Homo sapiens: one gene and its partners. The protein of the gene in region 3 interacts with the protein of the main gene of each other region in a pairwise test. Each region holds a gene or a part of one and is shown on either strand. Other genes may lie near its edges.

The links.
Region 1: the proteins of CGRRF1 (region 3) and FAXDC2 interact in binary tests that used the Homo sapiens proteins (3 or more experiments, as listed by UniProt).
Region 2: the proteins of CGRRF1 (region 3) and CD72 interact in binary tests that used the Homo sapiens proteins (3 or more experiments, as listed by UniProt).
Region 4: the proteins of CGRRF1 (region 3) and PGAP2 interact in binary tests that used the Homo sapiens proteins (3 or more experiments, as listed by UniProt).

Annotation. Positions count from the first base shown.
Region 1 is NC_000005.10:154,826,599-154,833,622, forward strand, and holds part of FAXDC2 (fatty acid hydroxylase domain-containing protein 2), read right to left. Parts: intron 4,325-7,024; coding exon 4,203-4,324; intron 2,943-4,202; exon of another isoform or gene 2,860-2,942; intron 1-2,859. UniProt on the Homo sapiens protein: Promotes megakaryocyte differentiation by enhancing ERK phosphorylation and up-regulating RUNX1 expression.
Region 2 is NC_000009.12:35,615,400-35,622,811, forward strand, and holds the start of CD72 (B-cell differentiation antigen CD72), read right to left. Parts: upstream 3,015-7,412; 5' UTR 2,905-3,014; coding exon 2,823-2,904; intron 2,723-2,822; coding exon 2,615-2,722; intron 1,849-2,614; coding exon 1,777-1,848; intron 1,291-1,776; coding exon 1,201-1,290; intron 988-1,200; coding exon of another isoform or gene 947-987; exon of another isoform or gene 880-946; coding exon 544-879; intron 1-543. UniProt on the Homo sapiens protein: Co-receptor of B cell receptor (BCR) that plays both positive and negative roles on B-cell functions. Recognizes the Sm/ribonucleoprotein (RNP) self-antigen ligand, and coligation of CD72 and BCR inhibits BCR signaling.
Region 3 is NC_000014.9:54,505,862-54,512,921, reverse strand, and holds the start of CGRRF1 (cell growth regulator with RING finger domain protein 1), read right to left. Parts: upstream 3,017-7,060; 5' UTR 2,963-3,016; coding exon 2,859-2,962; intron 1-2,858. UniProt on the Homo sapiens protein: Able to inhibit growth in several cell lines.
Region 4 is NC_000011.10:3,811,560-3,818,583, reverse strand, and holds part of PGAP2 (acyltransferase PGAP2), read right to left. Parts: intron 3,400-7,024; exon of another isoform or gene 2,498-3,399; coding exon of another isoform or gene 2,330-2,497; intron 1,280-2,329; coding exon of another isoform or gene 1,232-1,279; coding exon 1,049-1,231; intron 1-1,048.

The DNA of each region.
Region 1 (7,024 bases), on a different chromosome or scaffold from region 3:
GTGAAAAAAATATTTCAAGGCTGAGGGAGTCAGCAGCTGTGGAAATGTCTCTGGTGCTCTAATGAAACCATATCATTGGTGAACTTACCAAAAGAAATGTTGGTAGAGCCTTTTTCTAGGTGTGACACCTAATTTGGAGGAGGTTTATAGAGAAAATGAGACAATGCTTTTGTGATTACTTTAGGAGAGATGCAGGCTAAAGGATTTAGGGGTCAAGTTTTATGATGTTTCAAACTCACTTTCAAATAGGAAAAATGTATAGATGCATATATATTTATATTTTTATATATAAAGCAAAAATATTTAAAATTGGTGAATCTAAGTGATATGTAAATGCATAATTCTTACATTATTTTTCAACCTTCTGTATGTATTTTTAACATTTTTCATAATTACAGGATGTTGGGGAAAAGAGTAGACAGATGGCCGGGCGTGGTGTCTCACGCCTTTTATCCCAGCACTTGGGGAGTCCGAGGCTAGTGGATCACCTGAGGCCAGGAGTTCGAGACCAGCCTGGCCAACATGGTGAAACCCCATCTCTACTGAAAATACAAAAATTACCCAGGCGTGATGGCACACGCCTGTAATCCCAGCTACTTGGAAGGCTGAGGCAGGAGAATTGCTTGAACCCAGGAAGTGGAGGTTACGGTGAGCCAAGATCGCAGTGCCACTGCACTCCAGCCTGGGTGACAGAGGGAGACTGTCTCAAAAAAAAAAAAAAACCAACAAAACCCAAATAAGAGTGGACAGACAGGAATTGGAAACTATAAAGATAACTCTCTCAAAGAACTTTGCTAGTTAAGAGTTGTTTTTTCTGTTATTTTGTGTGTGTGTGTGTGTGTGTGTGTGTGTGTGTGTGTGTATGTCTGTTTTTTTGTGAGAGAGGATCTCACTCTGTCACCCAGGCTGGAGTGCACTCTTTGTTTACTTCCATCCCATCGCGAGGCCAGGTTTCGCCAGCCTGTTGTGAGAGGACATGTTAGGTGAGGCCATTACACCTAACCGTAGCTTACTGCAGCCTCAACCTCCTGGGCTCAAGCAGTCCTCCCACCTCAGCCTCCCAAGTAGCTAGGACTACAGGCATGCACCATCACACCCAGCTAATTTTTGTATTTTTTGTAGAGACAGTGTTGGGTGGGGTGTTTTGTCATGTTGCCCAGACTGGTCTCAAACTCCTGAGCTTAGGCATTCCTCCTGCCTTGGCCTTACAAAGTGGTAGGATTACAGGTGTGAACTACTCCACCTGGCCTGTTTTTTTTCCTTCTTTTTGAGTCAGTGTCTCACTCTGTCACTCAGGCTAGAGTGTAGTGGTATGATCATAGCTCACTGTAACCTCGACCTCCTGGGCTCAAGCAATCCTCCCGTCTCAGCTTCCCAAGTAGCTGGGACTACAGGCAAACGCCACCTCACTTGCCTAGTTAAAAAATTTTTTGTAGAGATGGGATCTCGTTCTGTCGCTTGGGCTGGTCTCGAACTCCTGGGCTCAAGTGATCCTCCTGCCTCAGACTGCCAAAGTCTGGGATTACAGGCGTGAGCCACCACACCTGGCCTGTTTTATTTATTTATTTTTCTTTTTGAGTCAGGATCTCACTCTGTCACCCAGGCTGATCTCAAACTCCTGGGCTCAAGCGATTCTTCTGGCTCAGCCTCCCAAAGTTTGGGATTACAGTAGTGAGCAACCACACTTGGTGGGGTTTTTTTTGTTTTGTTTTGTTTTGTTTTGTTTTTTAGATGGAAAAAATTTACCACGTTTGTAATAATCTAGAGAGGAATAATGAGAGAAAGAGAAGGAAAAGAAGATACAAGAAAGCAAAGAGAGAATTGCAGCAGCCATTTCCTGGATGTAGTACATGGATAGGGGAGGAATCACCCACAGACAGGAGCAAGGAGAGTTCACCTGTGGTGTCAGGTGGGCAGGCAGAGCATGTGGGTGCAGGTACTGGTCACTGCCCAATGTGGTGTGCATCTATAAAACTCTTCTGCTTGCTTTAGTTTTTTGTTTTTTTTTTCCCCCTAGAGACAGTGTCTCACTCTGTCTCCCAGGCTGGAGTGCAATAGCACAACCATGGCTCGCTTCAGCCTTGAACTCCTAGGTTCAAGTGATCCTCCTGCCTTGACCTCCTGACTAGCTGAGACTACAGACACACGCCACTGTGCCCGGCTAATTAAAATAATTTTTTTTGTAGAGACAGGGATCTCACTATGTTGCCCAGGCTGGTCTTGAACTCCTAGCATCAAGCGATCCTCCTGTCTCTGCCTCCCAAAGTGCTGAGATTACAAGCCTGAGCCACTGTGCCCCAGCCTGCGTAAATTTTCTTTTTTTCTTTTTTTTTTTTTTTGAGGCAGAGTCTTGCTCTGTCGCCCAGGCTGGAGTGCAGTGGTGCAATCTCGGCTCACTGTAACCTCTGCCTCCCAGGTTCAAGCAATTCTCCTCCAGGCATGCGCCACCATGCCCAGCTAATTTTTGTATTTTTAGTAGAGGCAGGGTTTTGCCATGTTGCCCAGGCTGGTCTTGAACTCCGGAGCTCAAGTGATTTGCCCATCTCGGCCTCCCAAAGTGCTGGGATTACAGGCATGAACCACCACGCCCAGGCTTAAATTTTCTTAGTGAAATGGGAAGCAAGGCCCCTCCCTCTGCCAGCAGTTAGGGGAGGAGGTGTGAACTAGCCATTCAGGCAGTGGGAGAGTAAACAGAGCAGGAATGGATCATAGGAACACCAGGTAGCATTCAGCTCCCCACTTGAGGATCTGTTTCTGATGTGTTAGTTCAGGGGCCAGTCCTTCCTTGAAACAGCCAAAGATTAAATGGCCTCGTGAGGTTCTTTCCTGCTTGTGTGCCCACTTGAGGGTGCATGTGGTACAGGAACACTGGACTTGGTGTCAGATGGGATGAGCCCTGGCTCTGTTTCCTAGCAGCAATCTGATCTTGAGCTAGTCACTGGACATTTCTGAACCTCAGCTTCTGCAGAATGCAATGACATCTTCCAATGTAGCTCTGTAGTCATTGTGTAGACCACAAGGTTGTACAGACGGCAGGTAATATTCTGGAGAGCCAATTAAGAATGTGAGCCCTGAAGTCACAAAGCCTGCATTTGAATCATAGTTTACCCGTGTAACACCTCTGTTTCCTCATCTGAACAGTGAAGGTTCTTGGCCTCAGTTGAAGATGTGAGCATTTAGTCAGTGGTGCTACAACAGCCGTGGTTGACAGATGAAGTGTTCTCAAGGACCAAGCACAGGGTTTGACACTTTAGGCTCTGATTCATGTCCTGCCAAGCTGGGCCTGGAGGAAGCCCCCAAGCCTGGCTGGCAGCTGTTGTCCCAAGTGAGGGGGACAGTAAGCCAGGCCAGCAGTCCAGTTCAGGAAGGGGCCCACTTCAAAGGAGTGGGTCAAGAGCACTGTTTGCCTTTCTGGAGTGCTGGGCTGGGGCAAAAGGACCTGAGAGCTGAGGTGGTTCACCCAGACACCTGGGCAGATGACTAAAAGATGATTGTCTTGTCTGGGAAAGAAGCCAGGATGTGGTTTGGGTGGAGCTGGGTAAAGAACCTGGGTTTCAGAATCAACTTCTTCCTTGTTGTGTAGGAAAAGGCGAGCCAGACTCAGGGAACAGTGGGACCCACTTCCCGGCGCTGTGCAAGTCAGAGTTCCTTGTAAGCAGGGTCTGGGCCTCACTTATCATGGATTTGCCCTGGTGCCTTTCACTATTGGTCGAATTGAGTATTTCGGAAGGAGAACTTGTTTAAAAGACAGCCACCGCCCACACATTCAGAATCCATACTATCCGTCTATTACAGTGGAGTTATCCATTGTTTTCGCAGCTGTCTCCCTCTCTCATAACAACAGCTGTTACCCATATTCTAGCATCCACCCATTGCTGTCTCCATTCCTATGGGTAAAGTGGAGTTGCCTGCCTTCTCAGTGCCAGGCTGACCACAGTGCCATGGGGCACCACAGGCAGGTCCAGAGCCTGGGCCAGGAATCAAGAGACCAGAACACTGGTCTTGACTGGCCACTAGCTGAGTGACTCTGAGGTTGTGGGCAAATTATTTCCTCTCTTTAACCTTCTAAACTGGGGGAGCCTTGTTGCTAATAACTTGGCTCACACTGGCCAGGTCTCTCCTGGGCCAGTGGTGAGAATTCTGAGAGTGTGGCTTTGGCTCTTGCTTTCTGTGCTTTGACCAGAAGTTGCAACAACACTTACAGGTTCATTCTTGCCGACCTGAATTCGGTAGCGAGAGATGAAGTTAGGTTTTCCTGTTGTGTCAACCACCAATAGAAGCCCATTGAAGCTCCAGAAGAAGAGACAAGGCACTTGGATGGCACCTGAGATTGGGAAACAGAAACAGTCAGGGCGACTTTGGGTTCTCACAGCACATAGACTAACAGAACATACTTTTTTGTGGTGACTGAGGCTTCATCCTAGACATTTCTTTGCCAGGGAGGTCTTAGGGCTTGGGACCAAGGGGTTACCTGTAGTCTTGGGTAGGAACTTGGACAGGCCATTTAAGGAGTGTCTCCATTTTCTTAGCCATAAAATAGGGACAACCTTCAAGGTGGTTGGTGGTTTTCATATAAATACATATGAAAGTATGTTAAGATATATAATACCCTCTAAAATAGAAATGAATTCAGGTTGACATTTGGGAGTCTGCGCCCACTGAACCCTTTATGAATTGCCAAGGAAGGAGAAGCAAAGGAAGTACTCTGTATGGTATGGGTCACAGTGAGCCCTGGGCTAGGAGTCAGTCAGGAAACTTAATCCCTGTCATCCTACTAACTGAGCAGCAGAACTTCAGGTGTCATCTAGTCAGTATAAGTGGAAAACTCATCGTTGTTTTTTTTTTGTTGTTTGTTTGTTTGTTTTTTTGAGACAAAGCCTCTCTCTGTCATCCAGGCTGGAAGTGCAGTTGTGTGATCATGGCTCACTGTAGCCTCGACCTGCCAAGCCGAAGTGATCCTCTTGCTTCAGCCTCCTGAATAGTTGGGGCTACCGGCACCTGCCACCATGCCCAGCTAGGACTCGGCTTTGCTTAATTCCATGTCTGTGCCCCTCCACCAGCACCCTTCATGCTCCATCAACCGAAGTAACTGTGGCGGCTGGGACTTGGAAAATACTTGCCAGCACTGTAGGGGAGTAGGATTGGTACAAACCTTCTAGAGGGCAATTTGGCAGTAACTGAAGTAATAAAGTGAGAGAGTCAGAGAGCCAAGACAGAAAGGGAGAAAGAAGAAAAGGACACACGTCTGTTTGTATGCATAAATGTCCGTCACAGCATTAAAAAAAAAATTTAAGCAGCCTAAATACCCATTAGTAGGGAAGGGACTAAACAGATTAGAGTATTTCCATATAATGGAATAGAATGGGAAGCTTAGAGTATTAAGTAAGGCTACATTAATAGGCATGGAAAGATACCTACAATCTATTCAATGAAAAAAAGATTTAAAAATAGTTGGTATCTCATAAGTACAACTATATACCCAATATATAAAAGATGCACACTAATATATAAACAGTGGTTATTTCTTGAAGGTAAGACAGTGGGTGATTTTCACACTTTCTATGCTTATTTGAATTGCCTGATTTTTATTTTTAACAATGAGCACATATTTACTTTTGTTTTTTTTTTTTTTTGAGACAGAGTCTTGCTCTGTCACCCAGGCTGGAGTGCAGTGGCGTGAGCTCAGCTCGCTGCAAGATCTGCCTCCCGGGTTCACGCCATTCTCCTGCCTCAGCCTCCTGAGTAGCTGGGACTACTGGCGCCCGCCACCGCGCCCGACTAATTTTTTGTATTTTTAGTAGAGACGGGGTTTCACCATGGTCTCGATCTCCTGACCTCATGATCCGCCTGCCTCGGCCTCCCAAAGTGCTGGGATTACAGGCGTGAGCCACTGCGCCTGGCCCATATTTACTTTTATACCCAGAAAAAATAAACTATTTTTTACTTTGGAAAAAAAAGGCTGATGGTTACCCAGTGGGCCATCCAAGGTGTCTACCTACTTGGAACTTCAAAGGCTGCCTGAGGAATACAGATGAAAAGCACACCGTAAGACGATCTTAAACTTCTTCTAGCTCTAACACTTAAAATTGGAAATATTTTCTCTCTCTCATATTGGCTTATCACCAAGGTAATAGGTAATTTTCACAGGATTGTACCTAACATATATAAAATATTTGAGGTTTTTTTAGATTGCAGGTTCAAGCTAATAAAGTTTTTCTACCACCTTCTCCATATACATAGGTAATCTGCATTGTTCAATGACTGCTTAAGATCCCATTAAATCTGTCATATTTAATGTTCAGCCCATTGTCAGAGTCCTCCTTCTAGTTGAAAACAATCCTCAGGTGCATTTTGCTTTATAGCAACTGACACTTTTTATCTTCCCTTCTAGACTATGACATCATTTTTTAATGGGGGAGGGAAACATTTCATTTAAATACTTCTTTTTTTTTTTTTGAGACAGGGTCTTGCTCTGTCACCCAGGCTGGAGTGCAGTGGTGCTATCTCAGCTCACTGCAACCTCCACCTCCTGAGTTCAAGCGATGCTTGTGCCTCAGCCTCCTGAGTAGCTGGGATTACAGGCACGCACCACCACGCCTGGCTCATTTTTTGTACTTTTAGTAGAGACAGGTTTCACTATGTTGGCCAGGCTGGTCTTGAATTCCTGGCCTCAAGTGATCTGCCTGCCTCAGCCTCCCAAAGTGCTGGGATTACAGGTGTGAGCCACTAATCTTGGCCTATCTTAATTTTTGTTTTTTTTTTTTTGAGACAGAGTCGTGCCCTATTGCCCAGGCTGGAGTGCAGTGGCACCATCTCGGCTCACTGCAACCTCTGCCTCCCAGGTTCAAGCAATTCTCATGCCTCAGCCTCCTGAGTAGTTGAGATTACAGGCACGCACCACCACACCCAGCTAATTTGTGTGTGTGTGTGTTTTTAGTGAAAAAGGGATTTTGCCATATTGGCCAGGCTGGTCTCGAACCCCTGACTTCAAGTGATCCACCTGCCTTGGCCTCCCAAAGTGTTG
Region 2 (7,412 bases), on a different chromosome or scaffold from region 3:
CTGCTTTCAAAATGAATGGACACCCCATCCTAGTTCCCTACACCACAACTCCCAGCTCCACCTCACTGTGAGTGCTGAGCGCCTCACTGCCTTGCCCCACCACCAGGTTGCACTCCATGTCAGCCAGTAAGTCTTACCCTTTGGGGAGATCTCAGCTATAACGAAAATTAATTAAAAATGAGGTCCCTGTCTTTAGAAAGATGTGCAAACCGCCAAGTTCACATCCAAATTTGGGGGCGTTCCCAGATCCTTGTCACTGATATCAACCGGAAGAAACCTTGGACAGTGTGATTTGGACTGCTGGCTGCCATCCTCCTCTCCCCTACAGGATGAGCCTTGGAGCTGGGTGGGTCCCCCTAAATCTAGTATGCAGCTTGGTCCTTCTCTCTGTTGGCCAAGGCTGAACAGCTCATGTCAGCCACCACTCTGGTTCACTGCCCCTTTCCTGAACACCTCACAGGCCCCTGGGTGATAGACTCCTGCCACTACTATCTCCTTGCTCCAATCCATCCCTCCCTTCTCTCCTCTCCCCAGAGCGGATACCTGCTGAGCCGCATGTGAAGAAGGGCTTCAGTCTGTTCTCCATGTTGCTCAGCTTCTGCTCCAAGGCCCTCCTCTGTTGCTCCTCACTTTGCAAGGTCTCCTTCGTCTTCTGTCTGTCTGCCTGGCAGGCCTGTAGCTGCCCTTCGGCCGCCTGATGAGCCCTCTGTTCCACCTGTAGTGCTTCCTGACTCTGCGCCAGCTCTCTCCTGGACCCCTGCAGATCCTCTGCACTCTGTCCCAGCTGCGTTATCTTGAGGCGGAGCTGCTGCCTCAGGCTGCTGTTAGTGACTTCCAGAACCCTGTTCGTCTGCTGGAGCTGCTGAGACACCTGCAGATCTGTTTGGCCACAGAGATTTGGTGGATGTCTTCTCCAGCCCTGCCCTAGTGCCCTGAGACTGCAGCATCAGCCCTTTTTCTGCTTCTTGCAACTTTTTGCATCACAGGCTGAAATACAAGATTTGACTGACTAAAGCGTAAGGAGGTACTGGATTAGGTGAGGACAATTCAGGAAGACAACAGCCCTGGCTGGAAACCAAACCCAAAGCTAAGGAGGTGGTGGTAGTGACTATGATCCCTGCTGAGGAAGATCAGCTTTGGGGCGAGAGTCGGGACGAAAGTCGTTCGGTGTAAGTGGGAAGTAGGGACAGCCTTACTCACAGCGCACTCCCAGGCAGATGGCGGTCACTCCTAACAGCAGGCAGGTGAGGAGCAGGCCGAGCAGGAGGTATCGCAGGCAGGTTGTGCGGCCTTAGGGGGACAGTGGGATGGATGAGGGCAGTCAGCCCCCGTAAAGAATGTAGAGAGGAAGGGACAGGTCCGTGGGGGAGACCCCTGGGGAAGGCATCCCTAAGAGGAGGGCGGTGCAGAGCTGAGGGGGCAAGCATGGTGGTTTCTGTCGGGTAGCGGGGTGTTTCGCAGGTAGGGGAGAGGGTGTTCCAGAATCAGTGCTGGTGGGGACTCGGGGGCGTTACCTGGGAGAAGGGGAAGGAAATATCAGACGGAGAGAGGGGAAGGGGGGCAGGTAGGTGAATTGGGACCATCCGCAGGGGGGCGGTGCACGTCGGATTCAGGCGCACCGGATGAAGGTGAATGTGGCACGGCAGCCCGGGCGTCGGAAGGACTGCGCCCGGGTTTATCCCGGAAGGAGCTGCACCCCGCGGGGCCCAGCGCCATCCGCAGCCGGGACAGGCGCGAGCACTTGGCCCCGCGGCTGCCCCGCACAGGCACACTCACAGGGGAGAATCCGCCCGACAGCTGGTGACGTCACGGCTCTCCAGGACGCAGTTGGCTGCTCCGACTTGACCGCTGTCGAGGGGAGCATCCAGTGTGAGACCGGAAGCCCCGAGTGTTGCCCCTTCTCCTCCTGCGCACCCGCTTCGCCCTCGCCACTGGGAAACTCCAGTCTGCCCTACGTTGCCTGCTAGAGCTGCTCTGGGACACAGTGTCACTCTCCTGAGTTCCTCCTCTGCCCGGGACTCTCTCGGCTTCCTCCTGGGTCTCACTGTATCTTTTCCCGGGACCCCCTCATCTCTCCTAGTTCTCCCTTTATCGTTTCCTCAGAGGCCCCTTATCTGTCGGCTCCAAACCCTCTCCCCCTTTGCTCTCATCCATCTCCCATCACCTCTTTTCCCTCCCATGGCTCCCCGTTTCCCATTAGAACTCATCCCCCACAGGGCTGCCCTATCCCTCCGCAGCCCTTATCTCCCCGAAAGGGGTCTCCACCTTGCGGGAGGAATCTTTCTTCCTCCCCTGGCTCCCATTTATCCTGTTCCTATTCTTCTGTTTCCTAAGAACCGCCCTCCTCCTTTCCCCAGGGTATTGTGCTCTCAAGAATACTGAGGGCCATGGCATGGGGGCGCACGCCTGCAATCCCAACACTTTGGGAGGCCAGGGCAGGAGGATCACTTGAGCCCAGGAGGTCGAGGCTGCAGTGAGCCATGATCACACCACTGCACTCCAGCCTGAGTGACAGAACAAGACCCTGTCTCAAGAACAACAACAAAAACATTGTGGACTCCCCAGCTCAAGACACAGCCCCCCAACAAACACACATCCCCCAGGCTCTCCAGACCTGCTTTGTCCCCTAGTACAGAAGAAGCCAAGCTTGAGGGCACCCCTAGGACTGCGGGCACTTGAACATTCTCGTAGGTGATTTCCCCATCATCATCAGCCCCTGGGTCTAGAGAGAAGAGAAAAGGGACCAAGGTGGGATTTGGGAATGGGATCTGTGGGGCGGGAAGTGGGGATGCAGGATCAAGGGGAGGCCTCATCCCCCTTACCCTGTCCTAACCGGCTGGAGATGCTCTTCTTCAGGGGAGCCTTCACAAACCTCAGATCTGCATAGGTGATGGCCTCAGCCATGGTCCTGAGCAGCTCTGCCCCCACTCGTCTTCCCTGTCATCCACTGTCCTCCCTTGCCCCTCTCGTCTCTGTCCGTTTACAACTAGGCTCTGTGTTCCCTCTGTGACTGCACGGCTTAGCAATTGGCCCTGTGACTTCCAGTCACAAAAGAGGAAGGTGTTAGCAAGTCTCAAACAGATGGGCTCAATGAAGCAGAAGGCATCCCTGGGCCAGGGCCAGAGGGGCCACGGAGGGGACGCTGAGGTCCAGAACACAGGGGTAGGGGATGGGCCTGTCCCCATGTCCTCCCTGTGCTTCCTCTCCATGCATCTTAAACCCATATGGGCCATGCTGGGCCCCAAACTCGGTCCTTCTGGTTATCTGCCCTGATCTGCCCCACCCTCCTCCTGGCTGCCTTGTCCACTGGGGCTTATGATGTGTAGCTGGAGCTGCACTGACCCAGACGATCTCCCCAGCTCCAGGGTGAGGCTCCGTTCTCCCCATGAGACTGGGGGTTCCTGGTTTGCATCCCTCGCTTCTCATCATCCTGGGGGTTCCAGTAACTGGGGGTTCAGGAACAGGCCTGGGCCAGAGGTGAAGGTAAGGAAGAGCCATGGCTGCAGCACCTCTGGAAAGGCAAGTGGCAGCACTGCCCCCCATGCACCCTCATGGGGAGCCAGGGAGCAGGTGAGCAAGGGAGTTGCAGAGGGCTTAAGAAGGCTGCAGCTTCCTAGGTGAAGTCAAGGCAGAGGAGCAGAACAGAGCCAGAGGCCGAGCGCAGATTCCGGACCAGCGGAGGTCTTGACATTTTCTTGGTTTGGTTTTGGTTCGTCTCTTACTTTCCTAGCAAAGTTCTTTCTTTAAAAAGTCCCAAAGCTGTCCCTTCCCACCCAGCCCCAAGGAAAAAGGGGGCATTTGTGGCGGAGGACCCAGGGACCGCGAGGCCCTCATAGGTGGTGGGGGCCTGGCTGATGGAGGAGAGAGGGAACCAGTTGGGGGAAAGGGGGCTGCTGAGCAGGGGTGCCCAAAGGTGCTCCCTAATGTTCTTTTACCGGGATGTGACCCCTACTAGGAACCCCAAAATGGCCTACATCCGGGATAGGAAGGAGCTAGAACAAGATGTAGTGTGGGGGTGGGAAGAACCCGCCCCTAGCAAAGTGACATCCGCCCCGCAGAATCCCCCTCCTGCAGCTGTGGGGAGGAAAAAGGAAGGGGGAAAAGGTCCTCACCACATGCCAACAGCTCGGATGATTGGTGGTGTGTGGCAGGACACTGCCAGGGACCCTAGAGCTCTGCCAATAGCTCCGCCCAGCCAGCCCTAGAGGAAGTGGCCACTGAGGCAAAGCTGTGACCTCAAAAATGTACTTGTAGAGAGGCACGTGTGCATGTGTGTGCATGGATATGCATGTTCCCAGGACTTTGCAGTCTGTTAGGGCATCTGTGAGGTGAGCGGCTATGTCAGAGCCTGCCTGGAGGAGGAAGCCTTCTGTGGGCTGAAGGCTGCCTGTGATCACTGTTATTTTCCATGGCAGAGAATGACGGGTCATTTTCAGAAAAGTCGTCAAAGGTCATCACAAGAGATCCTACAAGTATTTCCTTTTTGAAGCTCACTGTTTCCTAAGGTGCCTCTGCAGCTGTTAACTGTCCTTGCTTGATTAAAGTTTCCAACAACCTAGACCTTCCCCCAGATACAGAGAGTGGTATGTGGTGGTGACTCCCTGGGGACCTCAGGGGCCCTGAGAGTGAGTGGGAGGGTATAGAGCAGCTGGTGGCAGGGGTGGGTGGGGTGGGAAGAGTCAAATACTTGAACCTGTGGTGTACAGGGGGTGGGTGTGGGCAGTGTGTGAGTAAATCAATTGCAGGAACATTTGCAGGAGTTCCACAAACTGTAGAATGTCCCAGTTTTCAGATCCAATACACAGGTGAACATGATGTAGATGCCAGGTAAAATGCCAAAACCAAGCTTCTAGTCTGCACTCAAAAAGGTGTCTGTGGCCAACATAGTGAAACCCCGTCTCTACTACAAAATACAAAAAAATTAGCCTGGTGTGGTGGCTCGAACCTGTAGTCCCAGCTACTCAGGAGGCTGAGGCAGGAGAATCGCTTGAACCCAGGAGGTGGAGGTTGCAGTGAGCCAAGATCACACCATTGCACTCCAGCCTAGGCAACAAGAGCAAAGCTCCATCTCCAAAAAAAAAAAAAAAAATGGAATACATGGGCTTGCTGCCTAACTTGACCTGTAGAGAGGCTTAAGAAGGGGATCTCCTGGCCGGCATGGTGGCTCACACCTGTAATCCCAGCACTTTGGGAGGCTGAGGTGGGCGGATCACCTGAGGTCAGGAATTTGAGACTAGCCTGGCAAACATGGTGAAATCCCATCTGTATTAAAAATACAAAATTAGCTGAGAATGGTGGCATGTGCCTGTAATTCCAGCTACTAGGGAGGCTGAGAATTGCTTGAACCCGGGAGGCAGAGGTTGCAGTGAGCCGAGATTGTGCCCATCCTGGGCCACAGAGTGAGACTCTGTCTCCAAAAATAAAAAAAAATAAAAAAAAGAAGGGGATCCCCAGATGGAACTGCACACCGCAATATCTTGAATGTCTTAACCAGGCTTGTTCTATATTTTTCTCCTCTTTAGCTCTTTTGGTGATGGTTACATATCTTTTCATCACAGGCCGCATTCGCTTCTGTCTTAGACCAGCTTGTAGCCTTCCTTTGTGAACAGGGTAAGAGAGTAGGATCCTTCCCCTTCCCCACGTGTGTCACTTGGGGTCTTTACAGTTTTGACATTCACATTACATTTAGAGGCTGGACATCAGAAAAGATACCTGTAACTCCAAGCTGTACCTCTACTGCCCAAATATCAGGGAACTTTTAAGAGGTGAGGGGTCAGTGCTGTACATTTCAGCTTTTCCAGAACCATACTATCATCATCTGAGAGCCTGGAGGGCAGACACTAACACCCATGTTTTGCCCTCTCCTGGCCTCCCCACTACTCATTACAGGGAATGGGTGTTTACGGTTGACAAGAGGAGGGGGCCCAACCATGAGGGCATCAGATAGAATTTGCCATGTGGAAGGGGGCTCACCTGATCAACTTTGTGTCATTGATACAGTCTATGTCAGGACATCGGGAGCATCTCCTAAGACTCTGAAAGTCAGGCTATATCTGTCTTCATTACTTTAACCCACTGGCCTCCGGGAAGCCCTAGTTTACTGACAGGGTGTGGTAGCCAGAATAATGGCCTCCCAAAAATGTTCACACCCGAATCCCCAGAACCTGTGACTATGTCACTTTACCTGACAAAATGTAGATGTGGCTATGTTAATCAAGGTCCTTTAGATAGAGAGATTATCCTGTTTTATCTTGGTAGGCACACTCTGATCACATGAGTCCTTGAAAGGGAGAACCTTTCCCATCATGGGAAGAAAGAGATTCGGTGAGGGAAGGAGGGCCAGAGAGACGCCACAGGAGAAACACTCAACCCATAGGTCCTGATTTTGAAGGTGCAGGAAGAGGACCTTGAGCCAAGGAATGCAAGAAGCCTCTGAGAGCTGGAAAAGGCAAGGAAGCAGATTTTCCCCTTCAGCATCCAGAAAGGAACCAGCCCTGCAGACACCTTGACTTTAGCCCAGTGAGACCTGTGTCGACCTGATCTCCACAACTGTAAGACAATAAATTTGTATTGTTTAAGCCACCAAGTGTGTAATTTATTAGAGCAGCAAGAGTTTCGTGAACTGTGGAGGAAGCATGATGTAATAGAAAGAATAGGGAGACTCTGGTTAAAGAGACCAGCCTTGCCACAGTATGTGACTTTGGGCAAGTGACAGTTTTCCATCTGTAAAATACAAGATAGTCTGACCTCAATCAAGAGTATGATTGCTGGAGACACACTAGGTGTGGACTTTACAAACGCCTCTTTAAAATCTGTCACAAAGGCTTCAGAGTCAGGAGGGAGAAAAATGGGCCACCTGATTGCACCATGAGGGAGACTTGGATTTCTTTGATCACTGAAGCCAAAGAGTACAGATAGGTCTTCGGTGACTTGCCCCAGGCCTCTCCTTGGTCCTGCCTCAAATGGTGACACAGAAAGCACGTTCTCTGTGCTTAATGGCACAGAGCTGAAAAGCAAATACATCAAAAGGCCAACTCAAGATTCAAGCCTTGCAACAAGGCAAAATGATGGCTCCAAACCACAGAATGAAATGTCATAAAAATAATAACAGCAGGCCAGGCACGATGGCTCACGCCTGTTATCCCTTGGGAAGCCAAGGTGCACAGATCACAAGGTCAGAATTTCGAGACCAGCCTGGCCAATATGGTGAAACCCCGTCTCTACTAATAATACAAAAATTAGCCGGGCATGGCGGCGCACACCTGTAGTCCCAGCTACCCAGGAGGCTGAAGCAAAAGAATCGCTTAAACCCGGGAGGCAGAGGTTGCAGTGAGCCAAGGTGGTGCCACTGCACTCCAGCCTGGGTGACAGAGCGAGACTCTGTCTCAAAAAAAATAATAATAATAATAATA
Region 3 (7,060 bases):
ATCACTCCTAGGACAAGGGAACAGAGAAAAGAGAATAAAGAGAATTTACTATAGTTTAGAAATGTGGAGGAGAGACTCTATGGAGCTCAGGACTCAGATCTGAGGAAAGGATACTGGTATCTTTAAGGAAGTGCATAAGGCTGATTCTAGCAGAGTAGGAAAGCATAAACTGGAACAAGTGGGACCAACTATTAATGCCAGAGTGAGGCACTATTGTGGCAAGTGACAGACAAGAAAAGGAATCAACAGGAAGCAGCAAGTCCCTTCATCCTCTTCCAGCTTTCCAGTCTCCCTCCCTTGTTGGCAAAGCCCAATGGGCAGTCAGCTTGCAAAGAAGAAATGTAGTTTAGAGTTCTGCCCTAGATTCACAAAGCAGAGGGTGGTATGAAGTTGAGGTCAACAGCTTAATAAACTGTGGTCAAGAGGAGGCCGGGAATAGCTACTGGAGTCATGGTCCCTGATTATTTGAAACTGTTAAAGGATGTAAATGGACTTTTGGGCTTCTTTGTGCTCAGTGCCTGCAGAAAGCTATCAGAGATCACAGAAACCACCACATGGTGAAAGAAAAATACTATATTTCCAGTTGCATGCTTCTTTGCTATTGCTATTGGGATTCCAATAATCATATGCTCCTGTTTTTTCTCCACTCCCACACAGTGCAGGCAGACATGGCAAACAGTGGAAAGAAGCAAATAGTGAAAAACTCAGAGAAGTACCAAGGGAAAAACCATGACAGAAAACACATGAACAGTAGAGATGGTATTATGGGAGGTTAAAACAAAACAAAACAATGACAAGGGTGAAAAACATGCGTATTAACTAGTTTACCCTTCTGACTGGGGTACTATTGGTACTATTAGAAAGATGTTTTTATGCGATTTAGATGGTGTCCAAGTTTTCATCATTTCTAGTCAATAAATACATGGCCTTGGCTTAAGTTTGCAAATAAACATAGTAAAAAGTTTATCTACGTGGGCAAAACTAACTCGGATGGAGAGAATGGTTGGGTTAGGCACAAGATGACTGGTTAGGCCTAAATTAGGATGGAAGTGACTGGATTTACATGGTCTTGTGGCCTCAGCAGTGCTTAGCCCAGACTTCCAAACGTTCTATAATTACATGGGCTTCCACTCTTGTAAAAAGTCTTACCTAAATGGGGTGATTTGGCAATTATTAAATTTTCAAACCAAGTCTTAAAGCTGGCAGAGCCAGGATTTGAACCTATGTCTGACTGACTCCAAAGTCTGTCTGTTAACCACTACAAACATGAGGCTCCTGACTACCCTCTTCCCAATACTAAAGATTGATATCTAAGATATCTAATTAGTTGGCCTATTTAAAATAAAAATTAAAGCACATAAGGCAATTATCAACTAGTTACTATTTTCCTTAGTGGAGGAAAATTATGCTTCATTAAGAGAATAACACTAACATTATAGTCATTTAAAAATCTTGTGTTAAGACTGCTTTTCTCACATGGGCAACACCTTCCTCATTCCAATTACAAACTTTTGTGTAATGAACATTAGCAATAAAATCTGATGGGTCAAGAATAACCAATTGTGTAAGATTGGTCTTTGTTTTCCAATCTTACCCCCACAAATAAGGAATTTGTATTTCCAATCCTCACCCACATACAAGGCAAGGAATTCTATGCTCTATTGCTGGTAGGGTGAGGAGCAGTGTGGACAGGTTAAAACTTTTGTCACTTCCTAAAGATGGCATATATTTTCAGAAACCGACAAGGGCCCGTGTTCTTTAAGGCAATCACATATATGTGACCAAAGGCTATTTTAAAACTCGTTTTACGTAGCCTTCTTTATTCACTAACATGTTCTCTGCCCCTATGCTCATGCTGTCTTCTCTGAGATGCTTTTTCTTCCCTACTATATACATTTAACTCCATTTATTTTTCAAAATGCTCATTCTCCAAAATCCAGCTCATGTCCCTCTTCAACAGAGTCCCCTCTGACCTCTTCAGACCATGGCTGTTATCCACTTAGAACTGCTGTTTGATCTTTTTGTAACTATTATCATCTCAAAGGGATTTTGGAGGCTGCAGCCTAGAAAAACTGTTGTGGGCTAGTTACACGGTTTCAACTCGTTATTTACAAGGCTTGTCTAAACATGATACAATAGCATCTCCTCAAGAGAGAAATTGAACCTCTAGGCTAGAAGAATTGCTCAGCGGTTATCTAACAGACCATTCTCCTTGTCTCCAATAGGCAACTGTCCTACCCTCGGTGTTACATATTTCTAAGGTCTCTTCCAGCTCTAAAATTATGATTTTACAATTCTATCGACTAAATATTACTTCAAAAGGTGTGGAATGTATACAGAAACCATTAAATTCTCAAACGGTAACAGTTCAGTTACAAGTTACTCTGAAAGATCTGAGGCTAAGGGCTCCATTCAGGTCAGAATCACAACTGTTAACCTCGCTTACTGTCCAGTCTGTGCACTGTAGCACAGGTGACTAACTCATCCAGGACACACAGTAGGCCCGAATCCGGGACAGAAGCCTACTAGAGAAGCACTTTCTCCCAACACCAAGCCCAAGCCCAAGCCCTTCCTGGCTGCTTTATCGCCTAGAAACAAAGCTGAGTAAAACACCCCAATGCGGTACCACCCCAAGATGCCCCAGCGACACGGACCAAACGGTGATGCAGGGCAGTGACGCAGGTGCAGCGTCCACCTTGTTTTCCTCCCAGAGAAAGTCGGAGTTCTAGGCACCCGGGGACACCGAATCCCCGACGTCCTCCGGCCCGCGGCCCTCCGGCTCCGGTGCCCCCTGCTGCTCGTCGCGACCCCACTCTGGCGGTATCCGCCCCTTCGTCTCTCACCCCTGGGACACTTACCATCCCAATACCAGGCCGGTGGTCACGATGAAGCAGGTAAAGACCACCGCGATGTAGAAAAGCGGCGAGTATTCATAAAGCGTTACCAGAAACACCGCAGCCATCAGGGTCTTGCTCTGGGTAGAGCCCGGCTCCAGCCGCGGAGCCCAGCCCAGCCCGGCTGAGCCCCGCCCGCCCGGCCAGGGTAAAAGCCACTACAGTGCCCCGGAGCGGACAAACTTTGTAGGTCCGCACTTGCCTGGGGTTCTCATGAGCTAGACTTTAGGGCAGCCTCGCGGACAGCGGGAGCTGGCGTGCCAATCACGGCGCCCCCTGCCGGACACGCCACGCCCCTCCCGCTCCCGTCCCGAGCTATTGGCTACGCAGACCTGGGATGGGGGGGGCCCGACTCGCACCGCCCCCGACTCCCAGGATTGGTACCCAGCGGGCGTCTTAAGCGCTGTGGCCCAGTGGTCATTGCTGTTCCGCCGGCAAATTCTAAGTAGACTTTGGGGCCAACTCTGTGCCAGCCTTAGGCAATGTAGGTTTTCTGATGTCAGAGAGAGGCGCAGTCTGAAATCTACGTGCATCGTTTCTAAATCCTGAAACCCTGCCTATTATATCTTAGGCAAATTTGGGAGAGGGTGGAGGAGGAGGAGGAGGAGGGCGGGCATCTTGGATTCTACAAAATGAAATAACCATAAGCACAGTGAAAACACAAAAAAAGGAGTCTCTACCACAAGCAATTTATACGAGACTTGTCAGCCTTTTCAGATTGGACTTAATCATAGAGGAAAATCAGCATTGCTTATCCAAGATTCTCTTAGAAATAAAGCATCCGCTTCCTCCCACATCCCCCTCCTTTTCTCCTCTTCTTGTACTCCTCAAATTAGAATTAGCCAAACATTTGAAACTGTATTTGTTTCCACTTTAAGAATAATTTTTAAAAAACTTTTTAAATCACACAGAAGCTTTTTAAAAATTACTGAAAGTAGCTAAATGGTCACTCCCTTGTCTCAACCCTGTGAGTCAGCTCCATCAAGGTGGCCTCCCTGAAAGTCTTTCATAACAGTTCATTGACACCTCGTTGGTTTGCATTTACTCCTAAAGCCACATCTAGCCACATCAGAGAATGGGGATATGTAGTCTTATTATTCGTGAGCAGCAACACACCCTGGTACAAATCAAGAGTTTTGTTACTGAGGAGGAAAGAGAATGGACATTGGGATAGTTAACTAGTAGCCTCTGTCACACTCCTAAATCACCAGTAAAATTCGTGTTGAGAAAGATGAACTAAGTTTGTCCTATGGCCTCACATATTCCTTGGCAAATGAGCACGTAGTCTCTGGAGCAGCACTGTTTGAGAAGCTTGCTTCTACAACACAATTTTTAATTACTATATATCTGATTTGTGAAAATATATACTTTAATCAGCCCTCAACTGTTGGAGAATTTTTCATTGCTATAAATAACACTGCAATGAACATCCCTACAGCTAAAGTATTTCCTTAGGATAAATTACTAGAGGTGGAACTATGGTTTTAAAAAATGTACATTTTAAAGATTTTGTAAAAACACTGCTCTCCAGAAATGTACCAATTTGTATTCCCAGTTTTTCATCCACAGTTTTGCCATCATTTGATATTGTCACTTAACAAAAATATTGGCCAATCTGAAAGGCTCCCTTCTCCAGCAAGCCTTCCTGGATGCTTCCAAACCCTTGGGGAGATGCCTCTCCCAAAGCACCCAGTATGTAACTGTATGGGAGCCCTCTTATTTCTGGTGTGAGCACCTGCTCACTAGTGTATTTAGCCTGCTAGGAACCCAGCTCTCTGAGCACAGGAATGACACATAATTGATGTTTGTGCCACCGGTACCTAGTATATGTCGGGTAGTCATATTACTGAATTAATAAATAAATGAAATAAGCTTTTCTCCATGAGATTACTTGGAAGCACAAAGTATCTATATTAGAGTTTTTTAAAAAAAAGTTTGACTCTCAGATGAACAGGAAGAATGACTGTTCTTTATTATCTATAACTGATCTAGTTTAGCTTGAAACCCCACCCTAGACCCAGCATGGTGGCTCATGCCTGTAATGCCAGCACTTTGGAAGACCAAGGCCAGCACTTTGGGAGACCAAGGCAGGGAGATGGCTTGAGCCCAGGAATTGAGACCAGCGTCAGCGACATAGTGGGACCCTGTCTCTACAAAAAATTAAAAAATTAACTGGGCGAGGCAGAAGGATTGCTTGAGCAAGGGAGGTTGAGGCTGCAGTGAGCCACGATTGTGCCGCTACACTCCAGCCTGGGTGACACAGCAAGACGCTGTCTCAAAAAAAAAAAAAAAAAAAGCAAAGCAAGAACCTGTCTCAAAAAAGAAGAAAAAGAAAGAAGCCCCACCCTACTATTAGACGGGGTAAAAAGAGAAGACAATGTGAGCTTAAATTTATCAATAAAAAGTATCTTAGGCCGGGCATGGTGGCTCACGTCTGTAATCCCAGCACTTTGAGAGGCTGAGGTGGGCAGATAACTGAGGTCAGGAGTTTGAGACCAGCCTGGCCAACATGGCAAAACCCCATCTCTACTAAAAATACAAAAATTAGCCCAGCATGATGGCGGGCACCTGTAATCCCAGCTACTCAGGAGGCTGAGGCAGGAGAATTGCTTGAACCCGGGAGGTGGAGGTTGCAGTGGGCTGAAATTGTGTCACTGCACTCCAGCCTGGGCGACAGAATAAGATTCCGGCAAAAAAAAAAAAAAAAAAAAAGTATCTTAGACTCTTCAAGTTTAATTGCACCTTTTAGGAAGCTGGTCTCCTTTAGGAAAATGTTTAGTCTCTCCTCTCTCTTCTCTTGATTCTTCCCAAGACAGTATCTGATTGTACAAGGTGTTCATATGACCTGATGGTGGAGGTCAGGAAAATGAGACCTCAGCTCTGCATGACACCTGTAGGTCCTCACTAAGGGGAAGCGGGTTTCATCTGGCTTTTTGTGGTACCAGGCCAGCCCTCACTGCGGAGATCCAGGGTTCCAGCCATTTACCTCTGGTTGTAAAACCCTCATAAGCTATGGCTCCTTAGCTCCACTAGCTCACCAGACTGCTTACCATCTCCAATGTTACTTACTGGGGCAATATGTAAACATGTAGATTCTCACATATGTCACATGCAGGCTACTGAGAAGCAGCAGTTATCTCAGGATGCCCAATCAGGCTACCTCTGCCACTGAATGCCATTGCTCTAGCACCATGGTGAAGGTGGTGTGAAGCAAGCCAAATGTAAGGCCTCTCCTCCTTTCCTAGAGGGAAAGTGGACTACCAGCTCCGATCTCTTCAGTTTCTCCAGTACCCCACCTATTTGTTTTTTAATTTTTTTTTTTTTTTTTTTTTGGAGACAGAGTCTCATTCTGTCGCCCAGGCTGGCGTGCAGTGGAGCAATCTTGGCTCACTGCAACCTCCACCTTCTGGGTTCAAGAGATTCTCCTGCCTCAGCCTCCCGAGTAGCTGGGACTACAGGCACCCGCCATCATGCCTGGCTAATTTTTGTATTTTTAGTAGAAACGGGGTTTCACCACATTGACCAGGCTAGTCTTAAACTACTGACCTCAGTGATCTGCCCGCCTTGGCCTCCCAAAGTGCTGGGATTACAGGCGTGAGCCACTGCACCCAGCCCCAATACCCCACCTATTTGGGTGCTTCCGCTACAACCACCTGCTTCCCTGAGATTCCAGCCTGGAGGGATGTGGGGACAAAACTGTCTTTATTTTATTTTAATTTTTGAGACAGGGTCTTGCTCTTTCACCCAGGCTGGAATACAGTGGCATGATCACAGCTCACTGCAGCCTCAACATTCTGAGCTCAAGTGATTCTCCTGCCACTGCCTCTCAAAGTGCTGGGATTACTTACTCTTTATGTAGAAACATCGCTGGAAAAGATGGTCCCGATGCAGACCCTAAGAGCAGGTTCTTGGATCTCGTGTAGGAAAGATTTTGAGGCGAGTCAGAGAGAACAGTGAAATAAGCAAGTTTATTGGAAACTACTCTGTTACAAAGTAGGAGTCTTCAGCAGGAGAAGGAACATTCCATTCTTTTTTAGTGCCTCTATACTTATAAGAAACTAAAAGGAGCAATATTAAACTTGGAACATGCAGATGTGCTCACTAAAGGTAGGGGCTATTGGTGTTACAGGTGACCATTAATCAATCCTTCAACCCAAGCCTCTTAG
Region 4 (7,024 bases), on a different chromosome or scaffold from region 3:
TAGGAGAAACAAAGCTTGAGGATCCAGATCAGAGCTGAGGATGGATCCTCCAAGGTCAGTCCCCGAGTCTGGGCCAAAGCCACTTGTTACATCTCCCATCTTCTGGCCTCATTTTACCTCCTCAGTCCTGGCTTCCTTTCCAATCTGCCTCCTTCCTCTCATGATCTCTCCTGCCCATTCCAATCCCTTCTCTTCCCCTATCACCTCCCTCTAACCCCCAACTCCCTTGCACTGTTATTGTTTTTTTTTTTTTTTTTGGCACGATCTTGGCTCACTGCAACCTCTGCCTCCCGGGTTCAAGCAATTCTCTTGCCTCAAGCCTCCTGAGTAGCTGGGATTACAGGCACACATCACCATGCCCAGCTAATTTTTTTGTATTTTTTAGTAGAGACAGGGTTTTACCATGTTGGCCAGGCTGGTCTCAAACTCCTGACCTCAGGTGATCCTCCCACCTCGGCCTCTCAAAGTGCTGGGATTACAGGCATGAGCCACAGTGCACAGCCTGCTGTTTTTTTTTTTTTATTTTGTTTTGTTTTTGAGACAGGGTTTTACTCCTGTCACCCAGGCTGGAGTATAATGGTGTGAACTCAGCTCACTGAAATGTCCACCTCCCAGCCTCAAGCAATTCTCCTGCCTTAGCCTCCCAAGTAGCTGGGACTACAGGGGCATGCCAGGGCACCCAGCTAATTTTTTTGCATTTTTTGTACAGACGGGGTTTCACCATGTTGCCCAGGCTGGTCTCGAACTGAACTCGAGTGATCCACTGGCTTCGCCCTCCCGAGGTGCTGAGATTACAGGTATGAGCCACTGCGCCCGTCATCTCCCTTGCATTTCTATCATCATCTTCCAACTCAGGGAGGACTGTGATTCTATTCTCTCTGAGTCTCCCCCCATGAATTATCTCTGACTCTGACTTACCTACCCTTCCCCCATCCCCTTGTCCCTTTCCCTCTCTCTGATCCTCCACTTCCTCTCCACTATCTAATTCTACCCTAACTGCCACCTCCTGACCTGGCCCTGACCCAGGGGCTGGGGAGCTGGCACTCACCCCACAGTCAGTGGCCACCGTGTACTCAAAGTGGAACACCAGGGACCAGATGATGCAGAAGAAGAAGCCGAACACAGGAAAAGTGATGGCCCACCAGACCATGGCTGTGAAGCGAAGCCGGAACAAGGTCCCATCGGGGTCCAAAGGCTGGGAGGCCGCAGAGAACATCCTGCAGGGCGTGGCCTAAGCAGCACGAGGGATACAACTTGGGGCCTGGTAGGACACCTGGGTCTGGGAAAGTGGGGCCTTTTCCAGAGATGGCTCCTCAGAGTATAAGGAAAAGCCAGAGCAGAAAGGGTAGAAAAGGCATAAGGGGAAAAGGAAGACAGTGCAGAGGAGAAGGATCAGAGGGAGATGGGGCAGGAGCAGCAGAGACAGGCAGGGTCAGAGCTTAGGAATCCCCCTGGCACAGTGATACTCTAGGTCCACCTCTTGAAGAGCCTACAGAAGAGAGGCTCCCGGTGGCTTGGACAGGGAGCTCTGGTGGCCCACCTCACTCTCACAACCCTCATAGCCACTCAGGAGAAGGGTCAGAGGTAGAAAGGTTATTATTCCCATTTCACAGAAGGGGAGACTGAGGCCCAGAACTATGCCAGGATCAAACACCAGGACTAAGGCCTCTTGCCACCTGACAGCTTCAGGTTCTAAGTCATGGCTTCTTTCAGGCCAACTAACAAAGGACCGTTGGCTCAGAATGGCCAAAGCCCTCCCACTGACCCTGTCTGACCACATTCCTGTTCCTTACCCAAGTTCAACTAGGAACAGAGGGAGTGCCCCAGAGCCTATTTCAATGGGGCCACAGGCTGCCAGCCATTCCACCCCCAGGCTCTGAATGATCCAAGCCTCAGGCCAGCGGTACCCTGATCCTAAAATACCAGGTCCCTGTGGAAGCCCAGACCTACATCTCCTCCCTCTCTGAGGAGATGCAATGTCACCCAATCCAAGGTTTGGGGGAATCTGAGGGTCATGGAAACCTTCTCCACTGAGCTTGAGCCTGCTGTCCTGGGCCAGACCCAGGAGATCTCTGTCCAGGTCAGACCCAGACCCAGGGAACTGAGCTTCTTCCAATCTCTTCTCCCTCCTGGCCGACAACTCCCCCTCACAACCCCACTGCCCAAACACCTTGACCCCTCAAGCTGGGCTTCCCTCTGGATCAAGCTGAGGCAGACAGAGATGGCTTGATATTAAAAGGCCTAGGACCCAATCTCCCCTCGGCACTCATACTTCCCTCCACTAAGGAGACCCAGGAATGGGGTGGGGGCCTCATGAAGGAACACTCACACTCGGTGCTGAAGAATCCGGGTCTTGGGTTGAAGGTTGTAGCCAGACTGGGACTATTCTAAGACTGGAGGATCCCACCCCCTGCTCCTCAGGGCCTGCCCTCCCGCCCACAGTACCCAATTCTCCACGCCTGCCCAGGCACACATCCTTCCCAGGATCAACAAGCATATGTCATAAATCCTAGAACACTCTGCAAAGGGAAGAAGTGATAGTGGCTGAGGTCAGCTGGCAGTAGCTTCTTTGCCAGTGATGGGGGCAGGGACCTTCCTGAGAGTTGTATCCAGGGTCATAGGCAGGTTTCCAATAAGGGAAAGAGAGAAAGCAAAAAGGGGTCTGGCCGTTTTTTGTTAGAGCAGGACTGAGAGGGCTTGTTGGGCCTCACTGGAGAAATGGCTAAATCCTATGATGACAGAAGCAGGATACAAAAGAGATCTCAACAAGCCTGAATATGAGATATCGATGTTCAGCCTGTACCTGTGCAGAAACAGCTAATAGCAGCTCAGGCTGCCTCAACAGAGGTCTAACAGCCAGGAATAAGAATGAATAGTCCTGCTTTTGCCTGTACTGCCCAGGCCACCTGGAGTTCTATACCCAAATCAAGGCCCAGCAGAGAACAGTGACAAACTGGGCCAAGTTCAACGGTACATTCAGGATAGGGAAGAGCCTGGAAACCATTTCCTTGGAAGGTTGCCTGAAGGAACTGGATTGCCTGAGGTCAGGAGTTCGAGACCAGCCTGGGTAACACAGTGAAACCCCGTCACTACTAAAATACAAAAAGTTAGCCAGTCATGGTGGCGGTGTGCCTGTAATCCCAGCTACTCGGGAGGCTGAGACAGGAGAATCGCTTGAACCTGGGAGGCGGAGGTTGCAGTAAGCCGAGATCGTGCCATTGCACTCCAGCCTGGGTGACAAAGCGAGATTCCATCTCAAGAAAAAAAAAAAAAGAAGAAGACAGACTCAAGGCCCCTCATTACTGTCTTCTTGTCTCTACAGGGCTGACCTGAAGCCACGAGGAGAGAATAGTTCTACGGCAAAGCAGAGCCAGGGCCAAGGCAGAGACTCACCGGAAAGTAAGTACATACTCACTATAAGTAAAAGCTTCAGCCTGGCCAGCATAGTGAAACCCCATCTCTCCTAAAAATACAAAAAATGAGCCAGGCACGGTGGTGCATGCCTGTAATCTCAGCTACTCGGGAGGCTGAGGCATAAGAATGGCTTGAACCCAGGAGGCAGAGGTCGCAGTGAGCCAAGATTGTGCCACTGCACTCCAGCCTGGGCAACAGAGCAAGACCCTGCCTCAAAAAGAAAAGAAAAGAAAGGAAAGGAAAGGGAAAGGGAAAGGGAAAGGGCAAGGGAAAGGGAAAGGGAAGGAAAGGAAGAAAAGAAAGAAAAGAAAGAAAGAAGGAAAGAAAGAAGGAAAAAAAGAAAAAAAGAAAGAAAGAGAAAGAAAGAAAGAAAGAAAGAAAGAAAGAAAGAAAGAAAGAAAGAAAGAAAGAAAGAAAGAAAAGAAGGAAAGAAGGAAAGAAGGAAAGAAAAAGCTTGGGCTAGGCACAGTGGCTCAAGCCTGTAATCCTAGCACTCTGGAAGGCTGAGGCAGGAGGATCACTTGAGCTCAGGAGTTGAAGACCAGCCTGGGCAACATAGTGAGAAACTATCTCTGTTAAAAGAAAAAAAAGAAGAAGAAAGAAAAAAAAAAGAGGCTGGGCATGGTGGCTCACGCCTTTAATCCTAGCACTTTGGGAGGCCAAGGCAGGTGGATCACCTGAGGTCAGGAGTTCGAGACGAGCCTGGCCAACATGACGAAACCCCGTCAATACCAAAAATACAAAAATTAGCCAGGTGTGGTGGCGGGCACCTGTAATCCCAGCTACTCAGGAGGCTGAGGCAGGAGAATTGCTTGAACCCAAGAGGCGGAGGTTGCAGTGAGCTGAGATCACAACACTGCACTCCAGCCTAGGCGACAGAGTGAGACTACATCTAAATAAAAATAAAGAAAGAAAATAAAAGAAAAAGGCTAATTATTAGTTATTAAGCTTCCTTAGAACAGGCTACCTGGGGAGGAAGGAAGCTCCCCATCACTGGGGATATGCGAGCAGAGGCAAAGTAATCAATTACAGATATGATGGACTAGCTTGCTTCTTTTATTCCTAGGGCTGGCCATTTCTGGGATACTCTGAGTGGGAAATTCAGAGCAAATATAAAAATTCCAAGGTGGAACCAACACCGTAGGCTCAGGCAGTGGGGACAACATACCCTCAGGGTCACAGACCTAGTACTGCTCCAGAGGGACCAAGTACTCCAGCAACTATCTATATCTTAATTCCCTAACTGGTATGCCCAGAACAGGTAATAGGTATGCAAGGTATGCAATAACCTAGCTAATAGGGTATTGATGCCATCAGCCCTTGGGGTCAGCCATAAGGGGCAGAGCAAACAGCCTAGTCTGTTTAACTCCATATACTATACAAATATTATAATTTTGCTTGGACTATGATTGACTTATACCATGCCTTCCTTTCCCCAGGGCACTGGGCTAGGGAGTCTTAATCATTTATTCAACCAACACTTTCTGGCCAGGCACAGTGGCTCACGCCTATAATCCCAGTGCTTTGGGAGTCGAGGTGGGAGGATCACTTGAGGTCAGGAGTTCAAGACCAGCCTGGGCAACAGTGTGAGACCCCGTCTCCACACACATACACAAAAATTAGCTGGGCATGGTTGTGCATACCTATTGTCCTAGCTACTCAGGAGGCTGAGGCAGGAGGATTACTTGTGCCCTGGTGGTTGAGGCTGCAGTGAGCTATGATCATGCCACTGCACTCCAGCCTAGGCAACATGGCGAGACCCCATCTCCACAATTTTTTTTTTAATTAAGCTGGGTGTAGTGGCTCACATCTGTAGTCCTAACTACTCAGGAGTCTGAGGTTAGGAAGACTGCTTGATCCCAGGAGTTTGAGGCTGCAGTGAGCTATGATCATGCCACTACACTCTGGCCTGGGTGACGGAAATGAGACCCTGCCTCTAAAACAAATAAAAAAACCCAAATACTTTCTCACTCAAATGCAGTGCCTGCCTTCAAGGAGATCCCCATCTGGTTGGGAAGACAGACACAAATATGATGTGATAGATAACACAGGGAACTGTGGGCACCCAGAGGAGGGAGTGATTACATTAGCCCCAAGGAGGATAGGGAAGACATTTTAGAGCTAGCGGGGCAGGGTTTTGCGGGATGATCAGGAGTGGCTAGCGTAACAGGAATATCTGATGCATTATCTGAGATAATAGGTACTAGGTCATGTACTAGGTCACAAAAGGGTACTCCTTCCCTTCAGATCGCCTGTTCGCCCTTTTCGTCCAGTTCTTTCTAATAGCTCCCAGCCCCAGGTCTCATCAGATTGGGTGTCCATACCTCAACACCCATGTCTACCCACTGACAAATCAGGAGGAGAGGAAACTCCAGTCACATGAAGTAAAGAAGTGGGGCTCCACCCCATACTCACAGCTAGACCCCACTGCTAATCCTAGCCATTTCTCTGAAGCAGATGCTCTTTACATGAAGTGGGGATCCAGCTGGCTGGGGCCTTCAGAACTCTGAGGGACCCCAATGGTCCATGCGCAGAATCTGCCTCTTCTCCACCTAAAGCCCCTAGGTTAAGTTCATTTCCTGCCCTGCCTTCCAACCTGACAGTCTCTTCCTCCTCCTCCTTCTGCTCCTCACATTTCATCATCCTCCCTAAACTACCTTCCTATCCTTCTTCTACCTAGAGCTCTACACTAGCCCTGGGAAGGAGCAGGACAGGAATTATCAACCCTATTTTATTTTTTAGAAATGGGGGTCTCACTATGTCATCAGGCTGAAGTACAGTGAGAAAACCATAGCTCACTCCAGCCTCAGACTTCTAGGCTCAAGCAATCCTCCCACCTCAGGCTCCTGAGGAGCTAGGACTACAGGTGCATACCCCCATGCCCAGCTAATCAATTCTATTTCAGACATGAGGAAACTGAGGCTGGGTCTCTGTCTCAGGTAATATAGAGTCAGTAAATGAATTACAAGTATAACAGAGTTTGACATATGTCCCACCCCACTTACTTTGATATCCTAGAGAAAGTGGTCTTACATCTTTCTTCCTGGCCCCGCACCCCATATCCCTGTCCAGAGGGTACACAGACATCTATGGAATCTTAGAGGCCACGGGACTCACCCCAGGACACATACACACGTACATAATCAGATCTCCATACAGACAGGCACAGATATAGTCTCTCTCACACACGACCCACTCAAACCCATTATATACAGTCATGACCCTCACAATCACACACACATATACTGAGTCACATTCCTACAGAGACAGGCACAAGCCCATAGTGCTACATTAAGAGGCCCAAAATACCCTCTAGCCCAATCCTGTTCTCTCTCCACTTCCCAGAAACCCTGGGGTTCCAGAATCTGCTCTTCTATGAAGTAAGGATTTGGCTCTAGGTCTGCCCTCTGGACAGGGATATGGGGCGCGGGGCCAGGAAGAAAGATGTAAGACCACTTTCTCTAGGATATCAAAGTAAATGGGGTGGGACATGTGTCAAACTCTGTTATACTTGTAATTCATTTACTGACTCTATATTACACTTCAGTGACTCCAGCCTCCAGAACCTCACAGAAGGCAGAGGGAGACTAACCCTTGAGATTTCAATTTG